Linked DNA regions of Homo sapiens: regions 2 and 3 are each linked to region 1. Evidence: fine-mapped expression QTL. A gene starts in region 1. Each other region holds a variant in brackets. All regions are shown on one strand. Distances are from middle to middle.

Region 1 (10,061 bases):
CTCCAAGTCCCCACCAGACTCAGGAGCCCAGTTGGCTTCACCCAGTGCATCTTGTACCGGGGCTGCAGGTGGAGCTGCCTGCCAGTCCCGCGCCGTGCGCCCGTACTCCTCAACCCTTGGGTGGTCGATGGGACTGGGCGCCATGGAGCAGGGGGCGGCGCTCGCCGGGGAGGCTCTGTCTGCGCAGGAGCCCACGGCAGAGGGTAGGCTCAGGCATGGCGGGCTGCAGGTCCGATCCCTGCCCAGCGGGGAGGCAGCTAAGGCCCTGTGAGAAATCGAGCGCAGCGCCGGTGGGCCGGCACTGCTGGGGGACCCGGCGCACCCTCCACAGCTGCTGGCCCGGCTGCTAAGCCCTTCACTGCTCGGGCCGGCACGGCCTGCCGCTCTGAGTGCGGGGCCCGCCAAGCCCACGCCCACCCAGAACTCTAGCTGGCCCGCAAGCGCCGCTTGCAGCCCCGGTTCCCGCCCGTGCCTCTCCCTCCACACCTCCCCGCAAGCCGAGGGAGCCGGCGCCGGCCTCGGCCAGCCCAGAGAAGGGCTCCCACAGTGCAGCGGCGGGCTGAAGGGCTCCTCAAGCACGGCCAGAATGGGCGCCGAGGCTGAGGAGGCACCAAGAGTGAGCGAGGGCTGCTAGTACGCTGTCACCTCTCATCACCTTTCATAGTTCTATCACGTGGGGTTTATATCCTCATTACATATAAAGAAACTGAAGCCCAGTGAGGAAAGGTGACCTGTCCAAGTCCTTGTAGTTAGCCAGGACCAAACTGCAGTTCTCCTGATTCCAACTCCAATGATCTCTCCAGGACACCATAGCTACCCAGTCAGAAAAACAAGAATTGTGCCTGGGGATCTGGTGCGGTGGGTCAGGCCTGTAATCCCAACACTTTGGTCACGCCTGTAATCCCAACACTTTGGGAGGCTGAGTCGTGAGGACCATTTGAGGCCAGGAGTTTGAGAGCAGCCTGGACAAAATAGTGAGACCCTATTCTACACACACACGTGCACACGCACACAAACACAATGCAGATTTTCATGGCTTCGTAGCATTTCATCTTCTAGATGGGTCTTAGTTCATTTAAACAATTCCATATATTTTTCCTTTTTTCTATTTTCTTTTCTTTCTTTTTTTTTTGAGACGGAGTCTGCTCTGTTGCCCAGGCTGGAGTGCAGTGGCGTGATCTCGGTTCACTGCAAGCTCCGCCTCCCAGGTTCACACCATTCTCCTGCCTCAGCCTCCCAAGTAACTGGGACTATAGGCACCCGCCACCACGCCCAGCTAATTTTTTGTATTGTTAGTAGAGATGGGGTTTCACCGTGTTAGCCAGGATGGTCTCGATCTCCTGACCTCGTGATCCGCCCACCTCAGCCTTCCAAAGTGCTGGATTACAGGTGTGAACCACCGCGCTTGGCCTTTTTTTTTTTTTTTCCGAGTCAGAGTCTCGCTCTATGGCCCAGGCTGGAGTGCAGTGGTGTGATCTCGGCTCACTGCAAGCTCCGCCTCCCGGGTTCAAGGGATTCTCCTGCCTCAGCCTCCCGAGTCGCTGGGACTACAGGTGCCGCCACTACGCCTGGCTAATTTTTTGTATTTTTAGTAGAGACGGGGTTTCACCACGTTAGCCAGGATGGTCTCGATCTCTTGACCTTGTGGTCTGCCTGCCTTGGCCTCCCAAAGTGCTGGGATTACAGGCGTGAGCTACCGCGCTCAGCCTCTTTTCCTATTTTCTAAAAGTTGAATTGCTGACTCATATGATCTGCATCTTTTTTTTTTTTTTTCTTGAGACAGGGTCTCACTACTGTTACCCAGGCTGGAGTGCAGTGGGAAGATCTGGTTCGTTGCAGCCTCAGCTTCCTGGTGATTCTCCTACTTTAGCCTCCTGAGGGACCACAGGTGCCTGCCACCATGCCTGGCTAATGTTTTGTATTTTTAGTAGAGACAGCATTTTGCCATGTTGCCCAGGCTGATCTTGACCTCCTGGGTTCAAACAATCCACCCACCTTGGCCTCCCAAAGTGCTGGAATTACAGGTGTGAGCCACCGCATCCAGCTCTACAGTTATTTTTTATTTATTTAGTTAGTTAGTTAGTTAGTTAGTTTGTTTGTTTGAGGTGTAGTCTCCCTCTGTCTCCCAGGCTGGAGCGCAGTGGCATCATCTCGGCTCACTGCAACCACCGCCTTCCAGGTTCAAGTGATTCTTCCGCCTCAGCCTCCCAAGTAGCTGGGATTACAGGCTCCTGCCACCATGCCCGGCTAATTTTTGTATTTTTAGTAGAGACGGACTTTCCCCATGTTGGCCAGGCTGGTCTCAAACTCATGACCTCAGGTGATCTGCCCATCCCGGCCTCCCAAAGTGTTGGGATTACAGGCGTGAGCCACCGCGCCCAGCCTGTTACTTATTTTCATGTGAAAAGCAAACCTACAAAGCAGGTGGTGTTCATCCCATTTTATAGGTGAAGACACAAAGCCTCTGAGAGGTGAAGTGACTTGTCCAAGGTCCCATAGTGGTGGAGCTGGGAAGGCAACCTGGAAGTGACTCCAAAGTCAACGCAATGGTTAAATAATTGTGAATCGAATCTGGGAAGGTTGGCTGGGAACGGTGGCTCATGCCTGTATTCCCAGCACTTTGGGAGGCTGAGGCAGGCAGATCACCTGAGGCCAGGAGTTCGAGACCAGCCTGGCTAACATGGTGAAAATACAAAATTACTACTAAAAATAAAAAATTAGCCGAGCGTGGTAGTGGGTACAAAATAATCCCAGCTACTCGGGAGGCAGAGGTTGTGGTGAGCTGAAATCGTGCCATTGCACTCCAGCCTGGGCAACAAGAGCAAAACTCCGTCTCAGAAAAAAAAAAAAAATTAGCCGGGCGTGGTGGCGCACTTCTGTAGTTTCAGCTACTCAGGAGGCTGAGGCAGGAGAATCACTTGAACCTGGGAGGCGGAGGTTGCAGTGAGCCGAGATCATGCCACTGCACTCCAACCTGAGTAACAGAGTGAGACCCAGTCTCAAAAAATAAATAAATAAATAAATAAATCGCCCTGTGTCAAAAATAAAATAAAATAAACATAAAAGTAAGTAAAAATACAAAAATTAGGTGGGCATGGTGGCACACGCCTGCAGTCCCAGCTACTCGGGAGGCTGAGGCATGAGAACCGCTTGAACCTGGGAGGTGGAGGTTGCAGTGGGCAGAGATCCCGCCACTGCACTCCAGCCTGGGCAGAGCGAGACTCTGTCTCAAAAAAAAAAAAAAAAAAGAAGAATCTGGGAAGGTCTCCAAGCAGGTAGACCCTGAGAGCTGGGTCTTATGTGTGGACAGAAGGAATAAGGCTCGGGGAAGGCAATTTGGCAAAGTCCAAAGCCTGAACAAAGGCCTTCAGGAGATTTCTTTTCTTTTCTTTTCTTTCCTTTTTTTTTTTTTTTTTTTTTTTTGAGGCTGGAGTGCAATGGCGCGATCTCGGCTCACCGCAACCTCTGGCTTCTTTGGAATCAAGCGATTCTCCTGCCTCAGCCTCCTGAGTAGCTGAGATTACAGGCATGCGCCACCACGCCTGGCTAATTTTGTATTTTTAGTAGAGACGAGGTTTCTCCATGTTGGTCAGGCTGGTCTCGAACTCCCGACCTCCGGTGATCCGCCCGCCTCGACGTCCCAAACTGCTGGGATTACAGGCGTGAACCACCGCGCCCGGCTCAGGAGATTTCCTACAGCTCAAAATTTGTAAGGCAAAGAGATGGCCACAAACCTTGTGAGAGTGGATGGGGAGCGACCTCGGCTCTCTTAGTCCCGCCTGGCCCACTAGACACTGCACTGCATGGTAGAGGCCCCGCCCGACCCAGCCCCTTAATCGGCCTGTTGCAATCACTATCAACCCGCCAATTCTGGCCCCGCCCCTGTCTTCCGGGTTCACCCTCTCACTTCCTGCGGGTCCCAGGCTCAGGCCCCTCCTCCGCCTTGTTTGGAGCAATCCAATCGAACCTGGAGGGCTCCGCTCCGCCCTATGCCGCGCTCCCCTCCTCCACGAGCAATGAGAATCAGCTCAGGCCCCGCCCCCGCTTCCGCCCGCCTAGACCACGCCCCTTCTTCATTTGGCCAATCAGGCAGTCCACTGGCCCCCGCCCCCTAATGCCCCGCCCCGTCAGCACTTATCCCTGAGCTGCTTCTGCCGTTGCATCTTCGGGACTCCGCCCCGCGCGCGGACCTGCAGCCATGGCAGTCACCGCCCAGGCAGCCCGCAGGAAGGAGCGCGTCCTCTGCCTGTTTGACGTGGACGGGACCCTCACGCCGGCTCGCCAGGTAGGACCCTGAAGATTGGAAGCTCCCACCGGGAGTGTCACGCGGACACCCCCGAGGCTGAGTGTGGGGTCTGCAGCAGCGTGACCGTGGACACCCGGGGACCGAGTGTGGGATGCGGCGGTACCCGGCCCCCTGACATCCGGGGCCACCCACCGGGAGTGAGGGGACCTGGCCCTCACGTCACTGACCCCGCAGCGTCCTTGCCTGTGTTCTGCTTGGGAGTGCTGGGGTTGGATCCAGTACTGGAGGGAGGAGGCTGCGAGCAGGGGCCTAGCTCCCTCCCTCCCCGGAGGCTGTCACACGCCGCTAAGGCCTGGCTCACGGACGCCCCCGCCTCCTGAGCTGGGGATCCCACCCTAGTTCAGCCCTACGACACACCAGTGGTCGGAGCTGGCTTCTGAACCGGGGTTCCAGGCACACAAGCACACAGCCAAGCGTCAGTCATCATCTGGTGGGAGACAGGGCGTCTCGGAGTCTTCCCACCCCGACCTTTGCAGGCCTGGGACTGGGTCTAGTTTCTGAAGCCCCATCACCCACTTTACCTTCCACCCCCAGTCGTGGAGCAGAGAGGGCTTCTTTTCAAATTCGTTTATGAGCTCTACCCACCCGGATGTGAGAGGCTCCAGGCCTAGCCTGTTTGCTGTGAGGACACTGAGGAATAGTGAGGGTAAGAGTCTAGTTTTCTTCTAAAGACTCTCGCTGTGTTGAGCCTCTTACCTCTGCTCAGTTTTTCTCCCATTGGGTCTCATTGTGAGTGAGTCCCCAAAAGCCCCCTCACCAGCTGGATGCATCAGTAAGCAGGCTTCATTCATGCCCTCCCTGTGGGTAACCCACCCTCCAGTCTGGGGGCCTCAAGGACCAACCAACAGGTCTCCTAGCGTGGGGGAGCAGTGGGATGGGCTTTACTGGGCAGTGGCTGATGGGAACCCAGGTCTTAGCCTCCTCTCTTAGGTCCCGAATGCCCCTCCCCATCCTCTGTGGTGAAGTTGCCCTGGCTTGGGCCCTGGAGGCCTTCCTGCAGGGGTGGATCCGGGAGGAAGATAGCAGGACTGGAGCAAAGGTGGGCCATTTGCTTGTGGGTCACGCCTGTAATCCCAGCACTTTGGGAGGCCATGGTGGGCAGATCACCTGAGGTCAGGAATTCTAGATCAGTCTGGCTAACATGGTGAAACCCCGTCTCTACTAAAAATACAAAAATTAGGCTGGGTTCAGTGGCTCACGCCTGTAATCCCAGCACTTTGGGAGGCCGAGGCAGACAGATCACGATGTCAGGAGTTTAAGACCAGCCTGACCAATATCGTGAAACCCTATCTCTACTAAAAATACAAAAAATTAGCCAGGCGTGGTGGCATGCACCTGTAATCCTAGCTAGTCGGGAGGCTGAGGCAGGAGAATCACTTGAACCCGAGAGGCAGAAGTTGCAGTGAGCCGAGAATGTGCCATTGCACTACAGCCTGGGCGACAGAGGGAGACTCAGTCTCAAAACAAAACAAAACAAAAAGTAGATGGGCGTGGTGTCGTGTGCCTGTAGTCCCAGCTACTGGGGAGGCAGAGGCAGGAGAATCGATTGAACCCAGGAGGTGGAGGTTGCAGTGAGCCAAGATTGTGCCATTGCACTCCAGCCTGGGCAACAAGAGTGAAACTCCGTCTCAAACAAACAAATAAATGAATAAAAGAACTGGAACAAAAGTGGCAGGGCCTAGGCACAGTTCTGACTCCTCCCTCTGACCTTTTGCTCCACAAACATAACAACCTGAATAAGAACAGCCTATTAATTTGTCTACGGGCCAGCCTCTGTGCTTAGTGCCTTTTGAAAGTTAATTTTTAATCGTACACATTTTCATGAGCACACTCTCCTGGTAAAGAATGGAAACGTAACAGAGAAGGGTAAAGTCCACTCTGACCGCACTTGGGGAGCCTGGCCGGCTCCCCAAGTTAATGTGGTTACTGTGGTGTGGCTTCCCTCCAGGCCTTTATCTGGATCTATTTGCCCAGAGCAAATATTAAGCATTGTTTTGTGAGGCTATTTTTGTTATTGTTCTTTGGCTCCTCAAAAATCAACTTGATTGTGATGCTATTTTGTTGTTGTTGTTGTTAGAGACCGGGGTCTCACTCTGTCACTCAGTCTGGAGTGCAGTGGCGCTATCACAGCTCACTGCAGCCTCGAACTCCTGGGCTCAAGTGATTCTCCCGCCTCAGCTTCTGGAGTAGCTGGTAGCTGGGACTACAGGCAAGTGCCACCATGCCTGGCTAATATCTTTTTTTTTTTTTTTTTTTGGAGATGAAATCTCATTCTTGTCCCCCAGGCTGGAGTGCGATGGCATGATCTCGGTTCACTGCAACCTCCACCTCCCGGGTTCAAGGGATTCTCCTGCCTCAGCCTCCTGAGTAGCTGGGATTACAGGCGCTTGCCACCACGCCCAGCTAATTTTTTTTTCTTTTTTTTTTTGAGACGGAGTCTCGCTCTGTCGCCCAGGCTGGAGTGCAGTGGCGTGATCTCAGCTCACTGCAAGCTCTGCCTCCCAAGTTCACGCCATTCTCCTGCCTCAGCCCTCCCGAGTAGCTGGGACTACAGGCGCGTGCCACCACGCCCGGCTAATTTTTTTGTATTTTTTAGTAGAGACAGGGTTTCACCATGTTAGCCAGGATGGTCTCAATCCCCTGACCTTGTGATCCACCCGCCTCGGCCTCCCAAAGTGCTGGGATTACAGGCGTGAGCCACCGCGCATGGCCAATTTTTTTTTTTTTTTTTTTTTAATTTTTAGTAGAAACAGAGTTTCACCATGTTGGCCAGGCTGGTCTCGAACTCCTGACATCAAGTGATCCACCCTCCTGGGCCTCCCAAAGTGCTGGGATTACTGGTGTGAACCACCGTGCCAGCCCATGCCTGGCTAATTTTTAAAAACTTTCGGCCAGGCACGGTGGCTCACGCCTATAATCCCAGCACTTTGGGAGGCCCAGGCGGATGGATCACCTGAAGTCAGGAGTTCAAGACCAGCCTGGCCAACATGGCGAAACCCTGTCTCTACTAAAAATTTAAAACTTAGCTGGGCATGGTGGCAGGCGCCTGTAATCCCAGCTACTCGGGAGGCTGAGGCAGAAGAATCGCTTGAACCCGGGAGGCAGAGGTTGCAGTGAGCTGAGATCACGCCATCGCACTCCAGCCTGGGCAGAGGTTTCAGTGAGCCAGAATCACACCACTGCACTCCAGCCTGGATGACAGAACAAAAATTCGTCTCCAAAAAAATTTTTTTTTTCATAGAGACAATGTCTTCCTTTGCTGCCTAGGCTCTAGTCTCAAACTCCTGGGTCAAGTGATCTTTCTGCCTTGGCCTCGCAAAGTGTTGGGATTGCAGACCTGAGCCACAGTGTCCAACCTGTCTAATTTTTGGTGTCTAAGCTTTGTACTGCTTCAGATCCAGGTAGAATGTGGGCTTCCTGGGTTCTCAGCACTAAGTGAGGGCTAAGTGGAGGTCCCAGACATGTTGAAAGCCAGAATGCTATGCTTCCCCTCTCCCCCCATAGAAAATTGACCCTGAGGTGGCCGCCTTCCTGCAGAAGCTACGAAGTAGAGTGCAGATCGGTGTGGTGGGCGGCTCTGACTACTGTAAGATCGCTGAGCAGCTGGGTGACGGGGATGAAGGTAGGAGTGAGGCTGGGGGTAGAGGGAGTGGGGAGTTTGAGAGATTCCTGGGCGTCTTCAAAGATCCAGTCCTGCTTCTGTGGGGCAGAAGAAATAGAGAGAGAGCAGCCAGATAGTTCCCTTACTGATTTGACAAACACTTGAGCACTTCCTATTGCCAGGGATTGTGCCAGGCCCTTGAGAAATGGCTGGGGCAAAGCAAGCAGAACCTGCCCTTATGCAGTTTACATTCTCATTTCTCCCTGCTGAGTCTTGATTTCCTCATCTTTAAAATGGGCTGAACCAGCCGGCACAGTGGCTTACGCCTGTAATCCCAGCACTTTGGGAGGCCGAGGCGGATGGATCACTTGAGATGAGGAGTTCAAGACCAGCCTGGCCAACATGGTGAAACCCCGTCTCTACTAAAAATACAAAAAATTAGCTGGGTGTGTTGGCACGTGCCTGTAATCCCAGCTACTCGGGAGGCTGAGGCAGGAGAATCGCTTGAACCTGGGAGGCGGAGGTTGCAGTGAGCCAAGATCAGGCCACTGCACTCCAGCCTGGGTGACAGAGTGAGGCTACACATCCAAAAATAAATAAATAAATAAATAAATAAATAAATAAATAAATAAAAGGGCAGAACCAATGATGGCTACCATTTGTCAAAAATGATCATGTGTTAATGTCATTGCATTTGATCCCCACAATCACACTTTAGAGTAGGCGTGATCATCCCATTTAACAGAGGATGACTCTGAAGTTATCCAGGAAATCGACTGGACCTCAGAGCCCCTGGTCTCAGCCCAGTCAAAGTGGGTGCCTCCAGTTCCTCAAGCCAGAAACTTCCTCGAATTTTTCCTTTTCCCCACCTCTTGTTTATTCCATCAGCAAACCCCAAAATATCTCCCTGTCCCCTCTGTCTCCATCTCCACCACGCCATCATAGTCCAGGTAACCACGTGCCACCCAGACCCCGCAACAGCCTCTGGGCTGTGCTCCCTGTGCCTCCCACCTCCCACCCACTCCAACTGCTTCGCCTGGCAGTCAGAGCTGAAACCTCCAACTCTCCCATGCAGCCAGCCTTGAGAACCCAGTGCGATGGCAGCTATAGAACAGAAGGGAGCCCCTCTGCAGAGGGGCAGGGGAGCACAGAGTGGAAATGATGCCCTCTGCCAGAGAGTACTGCATGGCTTCCAGAGGAGGAAGCTGAATCTTGGAGGATGAGTGGCAGGGAAGCCAGGGAAGGGCGGTTCTGACAGAAGGACCTGCATGGATGCCTGTGTGCAGAGGCCCACAGGTGTGACTGGCTTCTTTGGAAGAAAACCAAGCTGCAGAGGGAGAAAGGCTGGAGAAGCAGGTTGTAGCCTCAGATTGAACAAATGGCCTTTGAATGTGAAACCAAGGGTGTAGGCTTCCTCTCTCTTTACTTGCCCGTGGGGTCACAGACGTGGTCTCACACTCTTTCTTCCTCCTGTCCTCTATGTGACCCTGAAGTCATTGAGAAGTTTGATTATGTGTTTGCCGAGAACGGGACGGTGCAGTATAAGCACGGACGACTGCTCTCCAAGCAGGTCAGTGTCCCCCAGGGCTTAGCCAGGGGCACCCCACTTTTCCATAGTGGAGCAGTCCAAGGGGGCTTCTGTCCTGGGCTGGGGGAGAGACACTGTGCCTGTCTCAGGGTCAGGCAGCCCAGGCCACGCTCAGAGCCCTGTGTTCCTTGGCCAGACCATCCAGAACCACCTGGGGGAGGAGCTGCTGCAGGACTTGATCAACTTCTGCCTCAGCTACATGGCCCTGCTCAGGCTGCCCAAGAAGCGGTGAGGTCCCACCAGCCTGGTCTCCAGAACCTGGGGCCTGAGGGAGGAGAAGTGTGGGTCCCTCAGAGGGAACCTGGAGATACTTGGGCCCCTGATTTTTTGCGGGGAGTGTGGATTCTTGTCCCCTTTGAAGTCCTAGGAGGCTGGGGTCCCAGGTGGGGCTAGATTTGAATTCAGGGCCGTTCTGGTTCTCTCTGGCTCCCCGCCCTCCCTCACCACCAGTGGAACCTTCATCGAGTTCCGGAATGGCATGCTGAACATCTCGCCCATCGGCCGGAGCTGCACCCTGGAGGAGAGGATCGAGTTCTCCGAACTGGACAAGGTACCACTAGCTATGC
Region 2 (10,061 bases), 350 kb after region 1:
GCTCAGTGGCCTCAGGTAAGTCTCTGCCCCCTCTGGGCCTCTCAGAGGCTGGCGGGCAGGGGCTCTGGGGACTTCCTGGGGTTCTCCAGGAAGGGGGTCTCCCAAGGTGGGCTCTGAGACACGTGGCAATGTGGCCACTGCCAGGAACTGGTCCTCTGGGGCTTGTCTGAGAGCCCAGCAGTGGTCCCTGCATTATGAATGCTTGTCGCTTCAGCGATCTGTCCCCATGGGTCCCCTCCCTGGCCTGCCCTGAGGCACAGCCTTCACCACAGGCTCTGGAGAAGCCACCAACTCCAACGCAGGGGCTGGAGCCTGGGACCCAAAGGAGACTCCAAAACAGACGATAGTCCAGTGAGCAGCGAGGGGGAGGCTCCTGGGGGCCGGGGAACAGCCCAGCGATGGGGGAGAGGCCATGCCTGACACAGGCTGAGAACAGAGGGGCCAGCTGGGCAGGGGAGGTGATCTATCATCCTAGCGCTTTGGGAGGCCAAGGTGGGACAATCACTTGAGGCCAGGAGTTCAAGACCAGCCCGGGCAACATAGCGAGACCCTGTCTCTACCAGAAGTAATTAAAAAATTAGCCAGGCGTGGTGGTGTGTGCCTGTAGTCCCAGCTACTCAAGAGGCTGAGGTGAGAGGATCACTTTAGCCCAGGAGGTGAAGGCTGCAGTAAGCCATAGTCATTCCACTGCACTCCAGACTCCAGCCTGGGCAACAGAGCAAGGCTTGTCTCTATTTAAACAAACAAACAAAAAAAGACTCAAGGACCCGGACTGGATGCCTCCCTCCTTTCTGGGGGGTACCATTATGCTCCTGCCACCTGGGAGCTGGCATCATATCAGTCTGAGGACAGGCTGCTTCCGAGCCTACCCTGGACCAGAGCCTCACCACAGCCTGAGAACATGCTCTGAACTGGAGTCATTCTCACAGTCAGCAAGTCCTCACTGAGCCATTGGGCAGAGGCAAAGGGACTAACCAGGTCACTTTTCTGAGCCTCGGTTTCCTCCCATGTAAAACAGGACTAATCATAGGACCTCCACTGCGTGGGGGGTGGGGGGCAGGGAGGCTCAGGGTGATTGGCACTTTCCTGGGCCCAAAGGAGGAGGCTCTGAGGGGTTTTTGGGGCAGGAGCTGCACCATGGCTGGGACTAAGTGAGGGACAGCATGTGGCCTCGGCCCTTGTGCACAACAGACTCTCCCTCCCCGTCCCAGGCCCCGGAGCTCCACCCATGTCCCCTTGGTGCTGCCGCTTCTTGTACTTCTGCTGCTGGCCCCGGCTAGGCAGGCCGCCGCCCAGCGCTGCCCACAGGCCTGCATCTGTGACAACTCCAGGCGACACGTTGCCTGCCGGTACCAGAACCTCACTGAGGTGCCAGACGCCATCCCTGAGGTCAGCAGGGCAGGAGCACAGGCACAGAGTGGCAGTGGGGCAAGGTGGGGACCCAGAGGGAGGAGCCTGGGCTGGGCACCAGTTGATCTGCCACCGCCTGCCCGGGAGACCTTGGCAAATTACTTCTCTTTGAGCCTCAGTTTACACTTCTGTAAAATGGGAATAATAAAAACCAGTAACAGGGAGATGATCTATTTAAAATCCTTACTGTGTGAATGGAATAAGTAGGTGACCCATAGATCGATACTGAATTCACTGCAGACCCTGTGGTGGAGAGGCGGGCTGTGGCAGGGTGAGGTGTGGTCTCTGCTCTGCAGAGTCATCAGCTAGTGGAGGAGAGAGAGCGAGGAGGCAGGGACAGCACAGTGTGAAAAATGCCACAGTGGGTGATGCCCAGGGCACTGGAGAGGAAGGCTTCCTGGAGGAGGTGTCAGGGGTCGGATGAAGAGAAATATGGGAAAGGTGACAGGAGAAAAGAGTGTTCCGGGGAAGAAGCAGCACTTGCAAAGGCGGGGTCCCTGCCTGGCTCAGCCCCACTTTCTCCTCGCTGTCCCCAGCTGACCCAGCGGCTGGACCTGCAGGGCAATTTGCTGAAGGTGATCCCCGCAGCCGCCTTCCAGGGCGTGCCTCACCTCACACACCTGGACCTGCGCCACTGCGAGGTGGAGCTGGTGGCCGAGGGCGCCTTCCGTGGCCTGGGCCGCCTGCTCCTGCTCAACCTGGCCTCCAACCACCTGCGTGAGCTGCCCCAGGAGGCGCTGGACGGGCTGGGCTCGTTGCGGCGGCTGGAGCTGGAGGGGAACGCACTGGAGGAGCTGCGGCCGGGGACGTTCGGGGCACTGGGTGCGCTGGCCACGCTAAACCTGGCCCACAACGCCCTGGTTTACCTGCCCGCCATGGCCTTCCAGGGGCTACTGCGCGTCCGCTGGCTGCGGCTGTCGCACAACGCGCTCAGCGTGCTGGCCCCCGAGGCCCTGGCTGGCCTGCCCGCCCTGAGACGGCTCAGCCTACACCACAACGAGCTCCAGGCTCTGCCCGGGCCTGTCTTGTCCCAGGCCCGCGGCCTGGCCCGTCTGGAGCTGGGCCACAACCCGCTCACCTACGCGGGCGAGGAGGACGGGCTGGCGCTGCCCGGCCTGCGGGAGCTGCTGCTGGACGGCGGGGCCCTGCAGGCCCTGGGTCCCAGGGCCTTCGCACACTGTCCGCGCCTGCACACCCTCGACCTCCGCGGGAACCAGCTAGACACCCTGCCCCCGCTGCAGGGCCCGGGCCAGCTGCGCCGGCTGCGGCTGCAGGGGAATCCGCTGTGGTGCGGCTGCCAGGCGCGGCCCCTACTCGAGTGGCTGGCGCGGGCGCGCGTGCGCTCGGACGGCGCGTGCCAGGGGCCGCGGCGCCTGCGGGGCGAGGCTCTGGACGCCCTGCGGCCCTGGGACCTGCGCTGCCCTGGGGACGCGGCGCAGGAAGAGGAAGAGCTGGAAGAGCGGGCTGTGGCCGGGCCCCGCGCCCCTCCGCGCGGCCCTCCGCGCGGCCCCGGGGAGGAGCGGGCAGTCGCGCCTTGCCCTCGCGCCTGCGTGTGCGTCCCCGAGTCCCGGCACAGCAGCTGCGAGGGCTGCGGCCTGCAGGCGGTGCCCCGCGGCTTCCCCAGCGACACCCAGCTCCTGGACCTGAGGCGGAACCACTTCCCCTCGGTGCCCCGAGCGGCCTTCCCCGGCCTGGGCCACCTGGTGTCGCTGCACCTGCAGCACTGCGGCATCGCGGAGCTGGAAGCGGGCGCCCTGGCCGGGCTGGGCCGCCTGATCTACCTGTACCTCTCCGACAACCAGCTCGCAGGCCTCAGCGCTGCTGCCCTTGAAGGGGCTCCCCGCCTCGGCTACCTGTACCTAGAACGCAACCGTTTCCTGCAGGTGCCAGGGGCTGCCCTGCGCGCCCTGCCCAGCCTCTTCTCCCTGCACCTGCAGGACAACGCTGTGGACCGCCTGGCACCTGGGGACCTGGGGAGAACACGGGCCTTGCGCTGGGTCTACCTGAGTGGAAACCGCATCACCGAAGTGTCCCTTGGGGCGCTGGGCCCAGCTCGGGAGCTGGAGAAGCTGCACCTGGACAGGAATCAGCTGCGAGAGGTGCCCACTGGGGCCTTGGAGGGGCTGCCTGCCCTCCTGGAGCTGCAGCTCTCGGGCAACCCACTCAGGGCCTTGCGTGACGGAGCCTTCCAGCCTGTGGGCAGGTCGCTGCAGCACCTCTTCCTGAACAGCAGTGGCCTGGAGCAGGTGGGCACTGGGCATCTGGCGGGGTTGGTGCAGGAGGCGGCACAAGGCCACAGGCAGCGTGCATTCACTCAACAAGCATTTGCCAGCCCCTTGGTGCCAGGTCTCAGCCTGGGCACGGGGACCCTGAGATAAACCAGGACTGCCCCTACCGGTGTGAGTGACAGTCCGGGCAGAACCCAGGCCACACACGGTGCCTGCACAGGACGGTATTGCTGGAGCATAGAGGAGGGAGGAATTTGGGACCATGCAGTCATCTACTGTTTGTACATATTGAGAGCCCCCAAGAGGTTTTGCCATTATTGGGTGGTGGGGTGGACCATGAACTGGGCATCTGGGTGACTTGGACGGAGCAAGTGTTTTGACATCAGACCAGCCTGGGTTTTGACCCAGCGCTGCACTTCCTGGCTGGACCAGCTTGGGCTCTCCAGCTTCTCTTCTGCTGAGGGAAGATGGGGCTCCCTTCCAGACTTGGGGGTGGGACAGCTCTGCCAGGAGCTCACATTGGGGCCTGGCAACTCCTTGCAGATTTGTCCTGGGGCCTTTTCAGGCCTGGGGCCCGGGCTCCAGAGCCTGCACCTGCAGAAGAACCAGCTTCGGGCCCTGCCTGCCCTGCCCAGTCTCAGCCAGCTGGAGCTCATCGACCTCAGCAGCAATCCCTTCCACTGTGACTGCCAGCTGCTTCCGCTGCACAGGTGGGCACCCCCACCTAGACCTCCAGCCAAAGACCACCCAGCCACTCTCAGTCAAGCCCCTGTCATCTCCCCAGGCACACCATGTCCATGCCCATCCGAGCAGCTTGTGGGGAGGGGCGGGTCCTGTGAGAGCCAGGCATGTATAAGCCCTTTCCAGGGTTAGTTACCCTTCCTGGGGATGTTGAGGGTGGACTTCTCTGAGCCTTGATTTCATCATCCATAAAGTGGGCATGGTATCTGCTCTGCCTAGCGGGCTGGGACCTAATAGGTAGGCGAGACCACTTTACATAATTACATGAGAAAGTCACAAGAGGTCGGGGATGGTGGCTCGCGCCTATAATCCCAGCACTTTGGGAGGCCAATGCAGGCTGATCACCTGAGGTCAGGAGTTTGAGAGTAGCCTGGCCAGCATGGTGAAACTCTGCCTCTACTAAAAATACAAAAATTAGCTGGGCGTGGTAGTGGGTGCCTGTAATCCCAGCTACTTGGGAGGCTGAGGCAGGAGAATTGCTTGAACCTGGGAGGCAGAGGTTGCTGTGAGCTGAGATCGCGCCACTTCACTCCAGCCTGGGCGACAGAGTGAGACTCCATCTCAAAAAAAAATAAAAAGTCACAAGAAGCCTGGAGTCCTGCAGACCTGGGCTCCAGTCCTGGCTCTGGTATTTTACCAACTAACTCTGCAAGCCGCGTAACCTTTCCTGCCCATCTGTAAAAAGGGGGGATGTAGTATCTAACCTCATGATGGTTGTTGTAAGAATGAAATTAGCATAGATAAGTTGATTTGAACAGTGTCTGCTACGTTGTAAGCCCTCTAACTGTTTATTATTACTATTATTATCCCCTTTTTACAAAGAAGGGATCAGAGGCTTGAAGTGGCTTGTAGGTCACATAATTGGTGAGCCGCCAAGATTCTCAGCAGAGCCTGCTGTCACCTATAGGCTCCACCGCTCCCAAATTCCTGGTGGCCTCCTTGACCTCCTCAGGAAAGCTGGCAAATGCTTGTTGAGCGAATGAATGCATGCTGCCTGTGGCCTTGTGCTGCCTTCTGCACCAACCCTGCCCCACACCCAGTGCCCACCTGCTCCAGGCCACTGGAGCAGAATCAGCACAGCTAGCTCCCCAGCTCTCTTTTCTCTTCAGGTGGCTTACTGGGCTGAACCTGCGGGTGGGGGCCACCTGCGCCACCCCTCCCAATGCCCGTGGCCAGAGGGTGAAGGCTGCAGCTGCTGTCTTTGAAGACTGCCCGGGCTGGGCTGCCAGAAAGGCCAAGCGGACACCAGCCTCCAGGCCCAGTGCCAGGAGAACCCCCATCAAAGGAAGACAGTGTGGAGCAGATAAGGTTGGCCATGGGGCAGGAGGGGTGAGACCTTGGTGGGTGGTGGGCCAGGTTCCAAAGTCCCCAGGAAGCAGGAGCCTGACTTGGCTTGGTCCTGATTCATGTGGTTCCAGAGCTGGGCAATGACCCAGTTGCGTCAGTTCAATAATGTCCATCCGAGGCTGGGCGCGGTGGCTCACGCCTGTAATCCCAGCACTTCAGGAGGCCGAGGTGGGCGGATCACGAGGTCAAGAGGTCAAGACCATCTTGGCCAACATGGTGAAACCCCATCTCTACTAAAAAATACAAAAACTATGGCTGGGTGCGTTGGCTCACGCCTGTAATCCCAGCACTTTGGGAGGCCGAGGCGTGCAGATCACGAGGTCAGGAGATAGAGACCATCTGGCTAACACGGTGAAACCCTGTCTCTACTAAAAATACAAAAAAATTATCCGGCTGTGGTGGTGGGCGCTTGTAGTCCCAGCTACTTGGGAGGCTGAGGCAGGAGAATGGCGTGAGCCCAGGAGGTGGACCTTGCAGTGAGCGGAGATCTCACCACTGCACTCCAGCCTGGGCGACAGAGCAAGACTCAAAAACACTCTGTCTCAAAAAAAAAAAAA[T/AAAT]TAGCTGGGCGTGGTGGCGGGCGCCTGTAATCCCAGCTACTTGGGAGGCTGAGGTGGGAGAATCGCTTGAACCCGGGAGGCAGAGGTTGCAGTGAGCAGAGATCACGCCACTGCACCCCAGCCTGGCGACAGGGTGAGACTCCGTCTCAATAATAATAATAATAATAATAATAATAATAATAATGTCCATCCTCCCGTTCTTCCCTCCTCCCTGCCCCCACCTCTGGGCTAGACCCAGGGTGGGTTTGCAAGGAGTGACCATTTGCTCCTGCTGTGGGACAGTGGCCTTTCCTATAAGCCACACTGTGCTGGTCCAGATGTATCCCTAAAATCGGTCCTGCTGTTTCTATATTTGCTGGATCACTGTTGACTCAACCATGTCCCAGCCTGACCTAAGGGGTCTCCCTCATCCCAGGATCCCAGGGATGGGGAGAGTGGAAGTGCAGGTGCATCATTGGCTCTGCCTCCCACCACCTACTAGCCATAGGTTGGACCCCACTTGATAGTACATTCACCATCCTGACATATCTAGTCCCAGCTTGACCCCTCAGTTGTAGCAAACTCACAGCATATCAGAGAAGGGTGCACAAGATACAGGCACCCCCGTATGTAGGAACCACTGCCTGTAAGGCCACGGAGGTGTCCAAAAGGGAGAGGAAGTTCTTCCAGGGAAAGTGAGAATAGAGTGGGGCCTGGGAAGGTGGGGAGAGGGCTCTATCTCCCCTGGACCTGCATTTTGAACATCTGGGATTCCTGGGGCCATTAGTTGGTGTTTGTATTCATCCCCTAGGACTGCCACAACAAAATGCTAGGAGCTGGGTGGCTTAGAACAGCAGAGCTTCTGTAGGCTAGGGGTCAGCCGTTGAGGTGTTGGCAGGGGCGTGCTCTCTGGAACCGGTAGTGCTCTCTGGAACAGGTAGTGGAAGGGTCCCCCTTGCCTCTTCCAGCTTCTGGTGGCCCCAGGTGCTCCCTGATCTGTGGCAGCATAATCTCCATCTCTGTCCCAACCTTCACGTGATGTTGTGTATCATCATCTTCCCTCTATAATCTGTCTCTGCCCAAATTCCACCCCCCCTTTTTTTTTCTGAGATGGAGTTTTGCTCTTGTTGCCCAGGCTGGAGTGCAATGGCACAGTCTTGGCTCACTGCACCCTCTGCCTCCTGGGTTCAAGCGACTCTCCTGCCTCAGCCTCCCAAGTAGCTGAGATTACAGGTGCGTGCCACCACGCATGGCTAACTTTTGTATTTTTAGTAGAGAAGGGGTTTTACCATGTTGGTCAGGCTGGTCTCGAACTCCTGACCTCAGGTGATCCACCTGCCTCAGCCTCCCAAAGTGCTGGGATTACAGGTGTGAGCCACTGCGCCCAGCCAAATTTCCCCTTTTTATAAATATAACAGCCTATTAGATTAGGGCCCAACCTAAGGATGTCATTTTAACTTCATTACTTCTGTAAGGAATCTATTTCCAAGTAAGGTCATACTCTGAGGTACTGGGGTTAGGGATCCAGCCTTTTGGGATGGGCACAAGTCAGTCTATAAAGTGTTCCTAATTTCTGGCTGGGAGCCGGGAAGGAACTCCTGAAAAGACCCCAAGCTGAAGGTAAGCAAGTTCTGCCTTGGAAGCCAGACCCGGAACTATCGTTGATGAGAGCAATACTAATCTCAGTTGGCAGTCACGTGCGCGACTGGGAAATGGCAGCAGTGCTTTCTCCCTGCGTCAGCCCCGGGAGGCTCATGTAGAAGCGGAGCTGGGTTCAGGAGTGGAAGCTCTGATGAGTCCACTTCCAGGTCAGGGCTTTAGTTAAAAGGGAAAGACACCCCGGGTCCCCACCCCTACACACAGTATGATGGCTTTGGAATCAGGACGTCTCAGGCCATTTGACCTAGCCATCCCTTCTGATACTCCTTTCAGTATTGTGGGTTATTTTGATGAAAGTAGCAGTTTCCTCCCAGGAATACAAAGGAATTCAAGGCAGAGGGCTCTTATCTTGAGGCTCAGGCACTGGCATTGTTCCCGGCTGGAGATGCTCGCCTGCTGAAGGCACCAGGATGGACGTCTGCCAGTCTCCCTTGATGCCCGTGTCTAGTTTGGTGTCTGGCACCCAGAAGATGCTCGGGAAGGCTGAATGACTGACTCACGACTAGGTCATCTGGCAGACAAACCTGGGTTCAACCCCACTGCCATCCTTTACAGGTGTAAATTTTTTTTTTTTTTTTTGAGACAGAGTCTCGCTCTGTTGCTCAGGCTGGAGTGCAGTGGTGCAATCTCGGCTCATTGCCACCTCCGCCCCCCAGGTTCAAGTGATTCTCCTGCCTCAGCCTCCCGAGTAGCTGGGATTACAGGTGACTGCCACCACGCCCGGCTAATTTTTTGTATTTTTAGTAGAGACAGGGTTTCATCGTGTTAGCCAGGATGGTCTCGATCTCCTGACCTTGTGATCCGCCCGCCGTGGCCTCCCAAAGTGCTGGGATTACAGGCGTGAGCCACCGCGCCCGGCAACAGGTGTAAATTTAAGCAGCCAAACGACTAAACTGTACTGAGGCTTCTTTTTTCCCATCAGTACTGCACAGGGTTACTGTGAAGGTGAAATGAGCCATTTAGATACCTATTTAACCTGGCACCTGGGTAGGGGCTCTTGATACTATGGAGTTCCCTTGCATCCCTTTCCCTGCAGCAGAGGGGCTAGACTGGATGGCCATAAAGGACAAGGGAGGCAGGGCAGGTTCCTGAAGGGTCTGGATTTGGTCTCACCTGTACCAGGAGCCCCTGTGGGTCCTGAGGCAGAAGCAGGGATGAGGGGTTTGCAAATGCCTCCCTGCCAGCAGCCCCACTGCTCAGACTCCAAGAACTTGAGTTCCCTCCAAGGGCAAACTGAGGCACAAGGTTACTGCATGGATTGAGCAAAAACTCCCAAGAGATCAATACTTCTATCTCCAACAAATCAAGCTGACCTCTAGGCACCAGCAACACGTGGTCATGCGCACATTCCCATTTCACACACACAAGCCAACTTTATGCCAGCCTATGCCAGGTGCTACGCACAGGCGGACACAGGCTCCATCTCTGGGGAACTCACAGTCTTTGGGGAGAATGGCACAACCGTAAAGAATGACAGCATGTGGCTAAGACAGGGAACTTGAGCTGATGACAGGCGACATTTCTTTACGGCCCTGCACACTCGTGTCTTGACTCACGTGGCCTTCATGATCGATACCACGAGGTGGGGGGGTGGGGTCAGAACACAATCTGCAAGGAATAGAGATCTAACAAACGGGACTCAAGCAAGCAGGGGGTTTAATTTCTCACACACAGAGTCTGGGGAGCCCAGTGAGGTTGCAATGGCAGCTAGATGTGTCCTCCAGCTCTGTCATCCTTGTCTTGAGGGTTCTGTGTTCACGGCCCCTCCAGGCATGGTTTCTTCATTTAGGTAGGAACAAAAGGCCAAAAGAACATACAAGCCCAGCTCTCTAGAGGCTCCAGTCAGAACTGGACCCTTTAACTACAAAGGAATCTTGGATGAATTATTTTTAGCGGGGCTTCAGGAGCAGGTAGCAGAGCCAAAGTGCACACTCAGGCCATCTTCCTCCCAATGTCCTCCCCGGGGGCATTTCCTTTAGGAAATGGGAGTCAGTCCTCACAAACACAGAAAGCAGCTCAAGGCCACCACACAGGTCGCCAAAATCCACATCCTGGTCACTGCTTCTTAGCTGCCGAGACAAGCTGGGTCCCCAACATCCCTGGGGAGCTAGGAGGAGCAGAGGACCAACACATGAGGCTG
Region 3 (10,061 bases), 300 kb before region 1:
CTGGGGCCTAGGAGCCTCCCCCTGTAACTCATCTGCTAATTGCCTGATGTGAAAGAGGCTGTGGCAAGAACCCCACAACTGTTTAGATCCTGAGAGCCACTCAGTATCCCTGGGCCAGTCCCAACCCCAGGTTGTGTCCCCTAACATCGGTCTAACCCCATGGCTCTCAAATCGTGTGCCAAGGCAGTCTGAGGTGCCACAGCAAGTGATCAAGGGAGCCACTGGCTATTTTAAACTTTCGAGGAAAACAGTGATGCTCAACATCAGCTGGGCACTGTAAGTGACTAGATGGGGAGAGCATGCAGCCTCAGCATTGAGACCACACTAGCTTCCTTTGGAGATGTGATATCTGTCATAGTACTGTGTGAAAATCAATGTGGAAAAGAGAGAGAGTGATGGTTGCTAGTCTGATTCCAAAGCTTGAGGTGTGCAGTGCTTGACAGGTTCATGTATTGGTAAGAAACAGTGACACCATGCTTGTGAAGAGCCATTCCACTCCAGCCTGGGCAACAGAGTGAGGCTGTATCTCAAAAAATAAATAAATAAATAAAAGAATATTTTGGATTCTTAATAACCATGATTTCTAAGAAATTATTAAGAATCCAAAATATTCTCTCTCTTTCTTTCTTTTGAGACAGAGTCTTGCTCTGTCACCCAGAGTGCAGTGGCACAATCTCGGCTCACGGCAACCTCTGACTCCTGGGTTCAAGTGATTCTGTCTCAGCCTTCCGAGTAGCTGGGATTACAGGTGCGTGCTACGATCCCTGGCTAATTTTTGTATTTTTAGTAGACACGGAGTTTCATCATGTTGGCCAGGCTGGTCTCAAACTCCTGACCTTAGGTGATCCACCCGCCTCAGCCTCCTTAAGTGCTGGGATTACAGGTATGAGCCACCGTGCCCAACCTCTTTTTTTTTTTTTTTAATAGAGACATGGTCTCACTATGTTGTCCAGGCTGGAGTGGAGTGGCTCTATTCACAGGTGTGACCATAGCTAACTGCAGCCTCAAACTCGTGGTTTCAGGAGATTCTCCTACCTCAGTCTCCTGAGGAGCTGGGACCACAGGTGTGTGCTACCACTCCTAGCAAAAAATATTATTTCTTCTTTCAACTTGACATATGATTTTTTCAAATGACCACTAAGCTGTTAAGACAATTTAAATACCTATTAGGATGTTCAAACTTAACTACTTAACAGAGGCCAGGCGCGGTGGTGCATGCCTATAATCCCAGCACTTTGAGAGGCTGAGGTGGGCAGATCGCTTAAGCCCAGGAGTTCGAGACCAGCCTGAGCAACATAGCAAAACCCTGACTTTACAAAAAATACAAAAATAAGCTCGGTGTGGTGGTGTATACCTGCAGTCCCAGCTACTCGGGAGGGTGAGGTGGGATGATCACTTGAGCCCAGAGAGGTTGAGGCTAGAGTGTGCCGTGATTGCACCACTGCACTCCAGCCTGGGCAACAGAGCAAGACACTGTTTCAAAAAACGAAAACCAGAACCGTTAGGTATTTCTTTTGGCTAAGGGATGCCATGAAAAATTTACTGAGACATAGTGAGTAGAGAATGTTTGGGAATCTTGAGTCATGAGTTGAGCAAGTTTGGGAACCTCTAGTCTAAACCATTTTCACAGAGGCCAGCCCTCCACTTGCCCCCAACAACTGGCTCATTTGTAGCTAAATATATCTCACCAAATTCAAAGCTTCTTCCTTTATAAGAAAGTACTGTCTGAGTCTCTTTATCCTCTCTCAAGAGAAGTAAACAGAGAAGAGCAGTTACTTTAAAGATGACAGTTCTCCTTTTTCCATCTTACTGAATATGCAAATTTGGTAATACTATTAAGTTTCAAATATTTATATCCTTTGACACAGCATCACCATCTCTACAGATTTGGTCTGAGGAAACTCTTATGGAGGTGCATGAAGACAATGGACAAAAATGTTCCCTAAAGCACTGTTTATAACGGCAAATACTGGAAACAACCCAAATGTCCATCAGCAGCATCAAGTACCTCTGTAGAATGAAGAGGCTACAAAGAAACACCCAAGATTCATCGTTAGTCACTAAATCTGGAAGACCAACACTTCCAGACATCAAGACGTAAGAGAAAACTCAGCCGTTAGGGTTGGGTGGTGATGGTGCAGTGGAACAGACTAGATCTGGAGGCAGACCCACGGTACACGGATCCTTGATTTATGAAAAAAAGGTGCCACTTGGTGCAGCAGGGGAAGGATAGTTTTTAAAATAACAGGTTCTGCGTCAGGTAGATATCCTTATGGAGAAAAACAGATCTTGCACTCCTACCTCCAACTCTTATAAAAATTAATTCCAGGTGGATTAGGTACATATGTGTAAAGAGTAAAAAATAAAGCGTCTAGCAGACAACATAGGAGAATATCTTCATGACTTTGAGGTAGGACAAAGATTTATTGAACAGGACTTAAAATGTCTAACTGTAAAGGAAAAGACTAATAATCTGGATTTCACTGAAATTAAGAGCTTGTGCTCTCACTAGACACCATTAAGACAGAACAGGCAAGCCCCAGAGTGGGAGAAGGTATCTGAAAAGCATATATCCAATAAAGGGGTAATCTCCAGAATAAAGAATTCCTCTAATCAATGAGACGACAGATAGTCCAAATGAAAAAGAGGTAAGACTTGAATTGAATGTAACGAAACAGACTATCCAAATTGCCAATAAATGTAAGAAGAGGTGCTCAATCTCATTAATCACCTGGGAAGTACAAATGAAAACTACAATGAGATACACTAGAAGGGCTTAAAAAAATTGACATTATATGTGTTCGGTAAGGATGTAGAACTAGAAGTCTTGTTCACTGCTGATGGAGTGGAGAATGGCCAACAATTTGGAAATACGCACAACCTCTGACCCAGCGATGCCATTCCTAAAAATGCAGTCACGTTTCCTGAAAGATGTGTGTACAAGGAGGTTCACAGCAGCACCCTTCATAATAACCAAAGCCAGAAAACAACTAAAAAGTTCATCTGCAATAATCTAGTCATACAATGGAACACTATAAATATGAGAACGAACAATCTATAATTCTACATAACAACATAATGATTCTTACACATGATATTGAGCAAAATAAGTCAGACACAAAACAGTGTATACTGCAAGACTCTCCTTATATTAATATAGTTTAAACAGAGGCAAAGCATCTGAGGTGACTAGGATGGTGGTTACCCTTGGAAGGCTGGAAGGCTTGGGGGAAGGGGCAGGTTAGTGATTGCAAAGGGCCCAAGAGAAGTTTCTGGGGTCTTGGTTCTGTACTTTGATCTGTCTGCTGGCTATAAGGGTGTGTTTACTCTGTGGAGTCACTGAACTGTGTATTTATGATTTGTATACTTTTTGACATGCATATTGTAATCTTTTTTTTTTTTCTTGAGACGGAGTCTCACTCACTCTGTCACCCAGGCTGGAGTGCAGTGGTGCAATCTTGGCTCATTACAACCTCCACTTCCCAGGTTCAGGCGATTCTCCTGCCTCAGCCTCCCAAGTAGCTGGGATTACAGGTGTGCACCACCACATCCAGCTAATTTTTGTTTGTATGTACGTATGTATTTATTTTGAGATGGAGTCTTGCTCTGTTGCCCAGGCTGGAGTGCAATGGCGTGATCTCCGCTCAATGCACCCTCCACCTCCTGGGTTCAAGTGATTCTCCTGTCTCAGCCTCCCAAGTAGCTGAGATTATAGGCACATGCCACCACGCCTGGCTAATTTTTGTATTTTTAGTAGAGACAGGGTTTCATCATATTGGTCAGGCTGGTCTTGAACTCCTGACCTCAGGTGATCTGCTCGCCTTGGCCTCCCAAAGTGCCGGGATTACAGGGGTAAGCCACCGTGCCCGGCCCTCCCAGCCAGACTTCTAAGCATGTACTTTGATAAGTTTACTGAAATGATGAACAATAGACAGATTAAACTCCAGTGACAGAATTCAGAAGAGTGGTTACCTTGGTTGGGGCAGGAAGAGCAGGGAGGGCCTCAAGAAGGCTTCTGGGGGTGCTGGGAATGTTCTACTTCTTGATGTGGGTGGGTGTTGCATGGGTAACTTCACTTCAAGCCGTAAGTTAAAATGTGGGCATTTTTCTGCATGTATGTTGTATTTTGATAAAATGAATGTCTTCAAAACATTTTTGGGGGGCATGGAAGTTACAAATGTAATGACATCAGCCCAGAGCACTTCAATAAACTGAAAAGGAGAGAGATCTCATCAATGCCTCCTGCTGTCAGCCTAGATTCACCTTCCCCAGAAAGCCCACCCTGACTTCCCCCAAGACCAGCTCAGGAGCTCACCCTAGCTCACACTGTCCTGAAGACCTGGTCCCAGGAAGATCTGTCGAGGGAAGGTTGAAATGAATAGGAAGAATGATGTGTCTTCAGTGTCTGTGGACTCCCAGGTCGTCTAGCCCACAAGTGAGGATGGGGTTCTTTCCCCACCTGGAGCCCAGTCCTCCTCATGAGAAGATCAATGTCAAGCTCAAGAAGGGCTGCTGTCTAGATTCCTTGCCAACTATGCTCCCTGAGGACAAGGCAAATGTCCTGCTTAGAGACGGTGCTCAGTCATATTTGCTGAATGAGTGAATCAAGGGATGAGTCTCTTATCTGTAGTCACCAGAAACAGAGGTAAGACATAAAAAGTATCACTTCTCAGCCTTCTGGCTAAGATCAAGTGTAGACATAAAGAGTACACTGGGCTTCCCTGCGCCCTTTGTCCCCTAGACTATCGTGATGTACCTCAGGAAATATATCAATGTCACTACAGGGCACGTTCTGATTCATTCTCAGCTCATCTCTGCTGTTACTGAGATACGGAAACAAATAGAGATGTGGTAATGCTTGAACATACCTGATGTATTCAGCAGTCTATCCATAGTGGGACACAAAGTAAAACATACCTGTTTCTGCTAGAGTAAGAGAAAGCCTGAGGTCAGCATGTTGTGAGCTAGCTGATAACAAGGACCGGGAATTACCCATTTGAGAGTTCCCAAGCCTGGCTCCTAGCTAGGCATATGGGAGGTGCTTGATAGCCACAAT[C/A]CCTGCCCTCGTCTGACCTGAGCTCCTTGTAGACAGGCACAGGTTTTCTTTTACTTTTATTCATTTCATTTTTCTTTTCTTTAACTCTGTAGCTTGGCAAAGGCACTGGCTTTTATTTCTGGATTCACAGTGCTGTGATCAATACAAGATGCCCAATAAATACCTTCTGAGTAAATGAAAGAACCATGAGACATAACCAGGGGATTCTAAGAATTTTTATGACCACTTGAAGAACAGAAAAGTTGCATATTAACCCCCAAGTACAGTAGCTCTGCTATTGCTGAACCAATCTTCATATTACCTCATATTACCTCAGGGGACCAAAATGTCCTGCCTACAAGGCTTATGGTATTAAGGCCACAAGGGGAGGAATTTTGGTCTGTTTTATCGGTTGCTGGGAGTCCTGGTGAAATGAGCGACTGAATGAATGCCTGCCTACCCCTCCAGGTGGGCAGCACCTGATGGGGAAGGGGGTTCATAACTGCTTCTGCATCTTAACTCCTGGCTAGGTAAGTGCTCAGGGGAGGTTTACAGAAGGGAACCGAAGGGTACTCACGGCCAGGAAGCCCAGCTTGCCTCCACACCGGGTCTTGAGCCCCATGGCAGCAGTCAGATGGATCTCAACCAGTGTGCTCGGTGGGATCTTCTCCTCTGCACATTCAGCCAGGTTCACGGCACACAACGCCATGTGTACATCGGAACAGGCGGATCCTGCAGGAAGCTTCCCTAGGGTGGGCAGAAACAGACACTATTGTTGATGGAGCCCCAAAACCAAACTTTTTCCTGCTCTCTCCAGCACGATCAAAGTAAGAGAGGAACCAGGGGAGAAGCGAGGTGAACTTTGTGATCAGACAGGCCTGATCACAGGATGGGATGCCAGGCTCTGTGATATACTGGCTGTGTGTTCCTGTCTACCTCACAGGGTAGCTGGGAACATGGCACCCATTTCTGTCACACCCAGAGCTGTCACAATTGCAGGTTGTTGTATAGGACTCAGAGGCGCACAGTGCAACATAACAATGTCAGCAGCACAGCCACACTGTGTGTTTCCAAACATTCAACAGAGGTAATGAAATTTTTTTTAGATGAACTGATTTGAATTTATTTTCATTAAAAAACCTTCACAATGTGGCTGGGTGCCAGTGGCTCACACCTGTAATCCCAGCACTTTGGGAGGCCAAGGCCGGCGGATCACTTAAGATCAGGAGTTCGAGACCAGCCTGGCAAACACAGTGAAACCCCATCTCTACTAAAAATAGAAAAAATTAGCTGGACGTGGTGGCACACGCCTGTAATTGCAGCTACTTGGAAGGCTGAGGCAGAAGAATTGCTTGAGCCTGCGATGCGGAGGTTGCAGTGAGCTGAGATCGCACCACTGCACTCCAGCCTGGGCAACAGAGCGAGACTCTGTCCCCCAAAAAAGCCAAAAAAAAACCCGCCTTCACAATACACAAACACATACCCGTTTGAGGGGGAAGTGACGTAAACTGAGCAAGGACAGCTGAACACATGTTGGGTTAGTGGGTGGGAGGCCAGGAAGGCTTACCACACCCTCCCCTATGAGAGGTGCACAGTGGCCCATCTGGGGCTGATCCCCTAATCAGGGAACAAAGTATCCTTGCACAGGCACAAGGGCCCATCACAGCTCTCGTGAGGCTTTCATACTGTTGCTGGCTTTGGTCCTCACTACAAGGGCAAGCAGTCTCCTTGCCTCAGGGGAGGAAGTGCCCATGTCAAGGTGCAGACAGTGGCAAAGCCAGGCTTCCCGTGCTCATCCAGCCCTGTGTTCCCCCTCCTGGGCTGCCTTGCCTCCCTGTCTTTTTATCAGCCTAGGGAGATCTCAGCCTCCACACTCCATTCTGTACTGGCCTCAGGTGTTCCTCCTGCAGGAGACACAGGAAGGGAGGTGAGAGGGCAGTGTGGCAACCATACTGTAGTTACCTCTGTCCCCTCAGTGCCTCACACAGGGAATGCCAGTGAGTATGGAAGGAATGAGTGACGTAAAGCTTCTCAGCTGGAATTCTCCAGAATTTGGCAGCAAGGAGGACACAGCCTGATCAGAGACCTGAGTATGGGCTTATTCTGTCCCAAGGGCACACTGAGGAACAGACAAGATAACAGCGGGGCAAATTTGCAGATAGGGACCTTCTGCTAAAATTCTACCATGAGCCCACATATTAAAGCTGCACAATGGCCCCACTGTCTCATCTCCTGGTCACTCCTACATCACTTGCCTGGCTCTGTTCCACTTTTGGCTGAAGCTCCTTACTGCCATCAAGGTATCTAACACCTTCCAGTTACCACATCCTACTGTTATTCCTGGCCCTCATCTTACTGGGTGTCCCAGCAACAATCTCCCCTCCTCAACTCTCTGACCTTGCTCCTCCAACACTTAGCATCTCAGTGTCTCCTCAGACCTCTCCAACTGCTCCTCTCAGGCAGCCTCTGCCCCTGACTCCCCATCCTCTATCTGTTCATCTCTGCATGCATGTGCAGTGGCACAATCACAGCTCGCTGCAGCCTCGATCTACCTCCCAGGCTCAAGTGATCCTCCCACCTTGGCCTCTCAAGTAGCTGGAACCACAGACACACACCACAAAAACCAGCTAATTTTTTGAATTTTTTTTGGAGAGATGGAGTCTCCCCGTGTTTCCCAGGCTGATGGGAAACTCCTGGGCTCAAGCGACCTTCCTTCCTTGACCTCCCAAAGTTCTGAGATTACAGATGTGAACTGCTGTGCCAGCCTTTATCCTTTCTTTTTGAGATGGAGTTTTGCTCTTGTTGCCCAGGCTGGAATGCAGTGGTGCCATCTTGGCTCACTGCAACCTCCACCTCCTGGGTTCAAGTGATTCTCCTGCCTTAGCCTCTCGAGTAACTGGGATTATAGGCACGTGCCACCACACCCGGCTAATTTTTGTATTTTTAGTAGAGACAGGGTTTTGCCATGTTGGCCAGGCAGGTCTCGAACTCCTGACCTCAGGTGATCCACCTGCCTTGGCCTCCCAAAGTGCTGGGATTACAGGTGTGAGCCACCGCGATGGCCTATCTGTTCTTTAGATGAGGGTGTTCTTCTGAATGGCCCTGAGGGTCTCCTTTTCACCTATCCACTCTCATAGGCTCCCTTGCTTTTCACTCTCACCTGTAGTCTTCTTTGGGCTGTAGATCCTGCATGTCCAGCTCACCTCCACATCTCACAGGCAAGTGTCCAAAAGGGAACTCACCACCCTTTTCCTGGAAAGTTGCTCTTCCTTCTATTTTCTTTACCTTTGTTGGTGGCACCATCGCTCACCCAAACTCCCAAGGAAGAACCAGGGAACCGTCTTAGCTGACTACTGTCCCCATCCATCAGTCCAATGAGTCCCCAGTCCAGTCAATTCCACCTTCTAATTTCCTCTCATCTGTCCTTTCAGCAACTCTCATCTTTAATCTGCATCAGCTTCTATTTGGCCTCTCTAGCTCTAGCCTTGATCCTCTGGGATCCACTCCTTATCTGCCATCAGAGTGAATCTTCTAAACTTTTTTTTTTGGAGTGCTATGGTGCAATCTTGGCTCACTGGAGCCTTGATCTCCCAGGCTCCAGTGATTCTCCCACATCAGCCTCCTGGGTAGCTGGGATTACAGGTGTGCATCACCAAGCCTGGCTAATTTTTGTATTTTTTGTAGAAATGGGGTTTTGCCACGTTGTCCAGGCTGGTCTCGAACTCCTGAGTGCAAGTGATCCTCCTGCCTCAGTCTCCCAAAGTGCTGGGACTACAGGTGTGAGCCAGCTACCATGCCCAGCCTGACTCTTCTAAACTTGAGAAGCACAAACCTGATCATATCACTATTTTCCTAATGCTCTTCACTGAATCCTACTGATACACTACAAGATCCTCAGCCTGGCATCCAAATCCTTCATGGTCTGAGTACTGCCTTTGTGCCCTGGCTCCCTCTAGGACCACTGAAGGCTTATTCTCAAGAGCCACCCCAGGTGGGGCTCCTCCTTGGGAACATCCCTCTGCCCAGAGGCTCATCTCCTGCAGAGCTGGTGACCTCTATGCATCCTTCCATGCAAAGCCAAGACTCTACTTCCCCAGAAAACCTTTCTTGAAACCCTCCAAACGGGTACCCACTCCCTCCCAACGAAAACATGTTCCTTCTGCTAAGTCTAACATACTCACGCTGAACTGTCATTCATTTGTTGACCTCTCTGCCTATTATAGCAGGAGCTTACTGAATGAAACAGATGATCATATTTCATTGACTCTAAGATGTCAGCAATTTTAAGTCTCACCATTAATTTAAGTATCACTAAAGAAAAACACTGCCAACTTATCTACAATGTGCCACTGTTTATAGGACACATCCTGAGTATAGTGATGTTATTGTGAAAACATGTGCATCTGAGAACTGATGAGCTAAAGCAAAGAGCCAACCTTACAGCTGTGAAAACAGGTAGAAGCTTGGTCTAGCCACTCTAAAAGAGTAGCGTTAAAGGGACTTCAGCTAGGGTGCAGAACTGGCAAATCAAGCTAAGGAGGAGAGGTAGCATGAGATGCCTTGCAGCAAGCCAGGCAGCAGCAGCTGCCCCCTCACCTGTGATGTGCAGCTGGTGCAGCCGGTGATAGGCCAGAGCCGCATCCCGGGCGCTGGTCTTAGCTTCGTCTTCAAAGCCTGCCTCAGTGGCTGGCGTGGCCCGCCGGCACTGGAAGACTTTCTTGAGCAGCCAGCGCACCAGGCGTAGCTTCTGCAGGCTGTAGCGGATCACGTTCCAGGAGAGGCTGCAGGCCAGGTCCAGGCGGGAGGTGGGCAGTGCCCGGCCCAAAACTGCCAGGCAGGTTTGTAGGTTGCCGGCAGCAGCTGCAAAATCTCCCTACAAAGTATCAAAAGGTGTTAATGGTCACTGGCCTTGCTCCGGCTTTTTGTTTTGATATAGACTTCTACTCCCCCTGCCCCCAATTATCAGAGGAATTAGTGCACACTCATAAAAACGAGGGAAACTTCAGAAAGCTACAAGAAAGTAAAA

Which allele goes with the higher level. Positions count from the first base shown, and alleles are read on the strand shown. Sizes are in standard deviations (SD) of each study's normalised expression. Not every link is listed here.
In carriers of allele AAAT in region 2, the expression in monocytes after LPS of the gene that starts at base 4,164 in region 1 tends to be higher than with T alone (large effect, 1.7 SD a copy in Quach 2016).

The links.
Region 2: its variant is fine-mapped to the expression of PMM1 in monocytes after LPS (Quach 2016, PIP 0.95).
Region 3: its variant is fine-mapped to the expression of PMM1 in iPS cells (HipSci, PIP 0.95).

Annotation. Positions count from the first base shown.
Region 1 is chr22:41,583,943-41,594,003 of GRCh38, reverse strand. PMM1 (phosphomannomutase 1) reads left to right here and starts at 4,164. Exons shown (of 8, transcript NM_002676.3): 1 at 4,164-4,285; 2 at 7,811-7,928; 3 at 9,401-9,477; 4 at 9,632-9,723; 5 at 9,946-10,045. The coding sequence starts at 4,199. RefSeq lists a silencer at 3,816-3,965 and an enhancer at 4,360-5,039.
Region 2 is chr22:41,230,771-41,240,831 of GRCh38, reverse strand. It overlaps CHADL (chondroadherin like), which reads left to right. Exons shown (of 6, transcript NM_138481.2): 2 at 1,212-1,389; 3 at 1,947-3,656; 4 at 4,182-4,348; 5 at 5,489-5,687. It overlaps L3MBTL2 (L3MBTL histone methyl-lysine binding protein 2), which reads right to left. Exons shown (of 17, transcript NM_031488.5): 17 at 9,561-10,061. Among named protein-coding and RNA genes, the nearest start is that of CHADL, 5.1 kb to the left of the region's middle. RefSeq lists enhancers at 1-298, 1,748-2,335, 2,336-2,924, 2,925-3,513, 3,514-4,102 and silencers at 2,611-2,990, 3,051-3,150. The variant T/AAAT (reference allele first, on the strand shown) is at 6,284.
Region 3 is chr22:41,880,563-41,890,623 of GRCh38, reverse strand. SREBF2 (sterol regulatory element binding transcription factor 2) reads right to left here. Exons shown (of 19, transcript NM_004599.4): 10 at 9,632-9,908; 11 at 5,613-5,782. Among named protein-coding and RNA genes, the nearest start is that of MIR33A, 15 kb to the left of the region's middle. The variant C/A (reference allele first, on the strand shown) is at 5,057.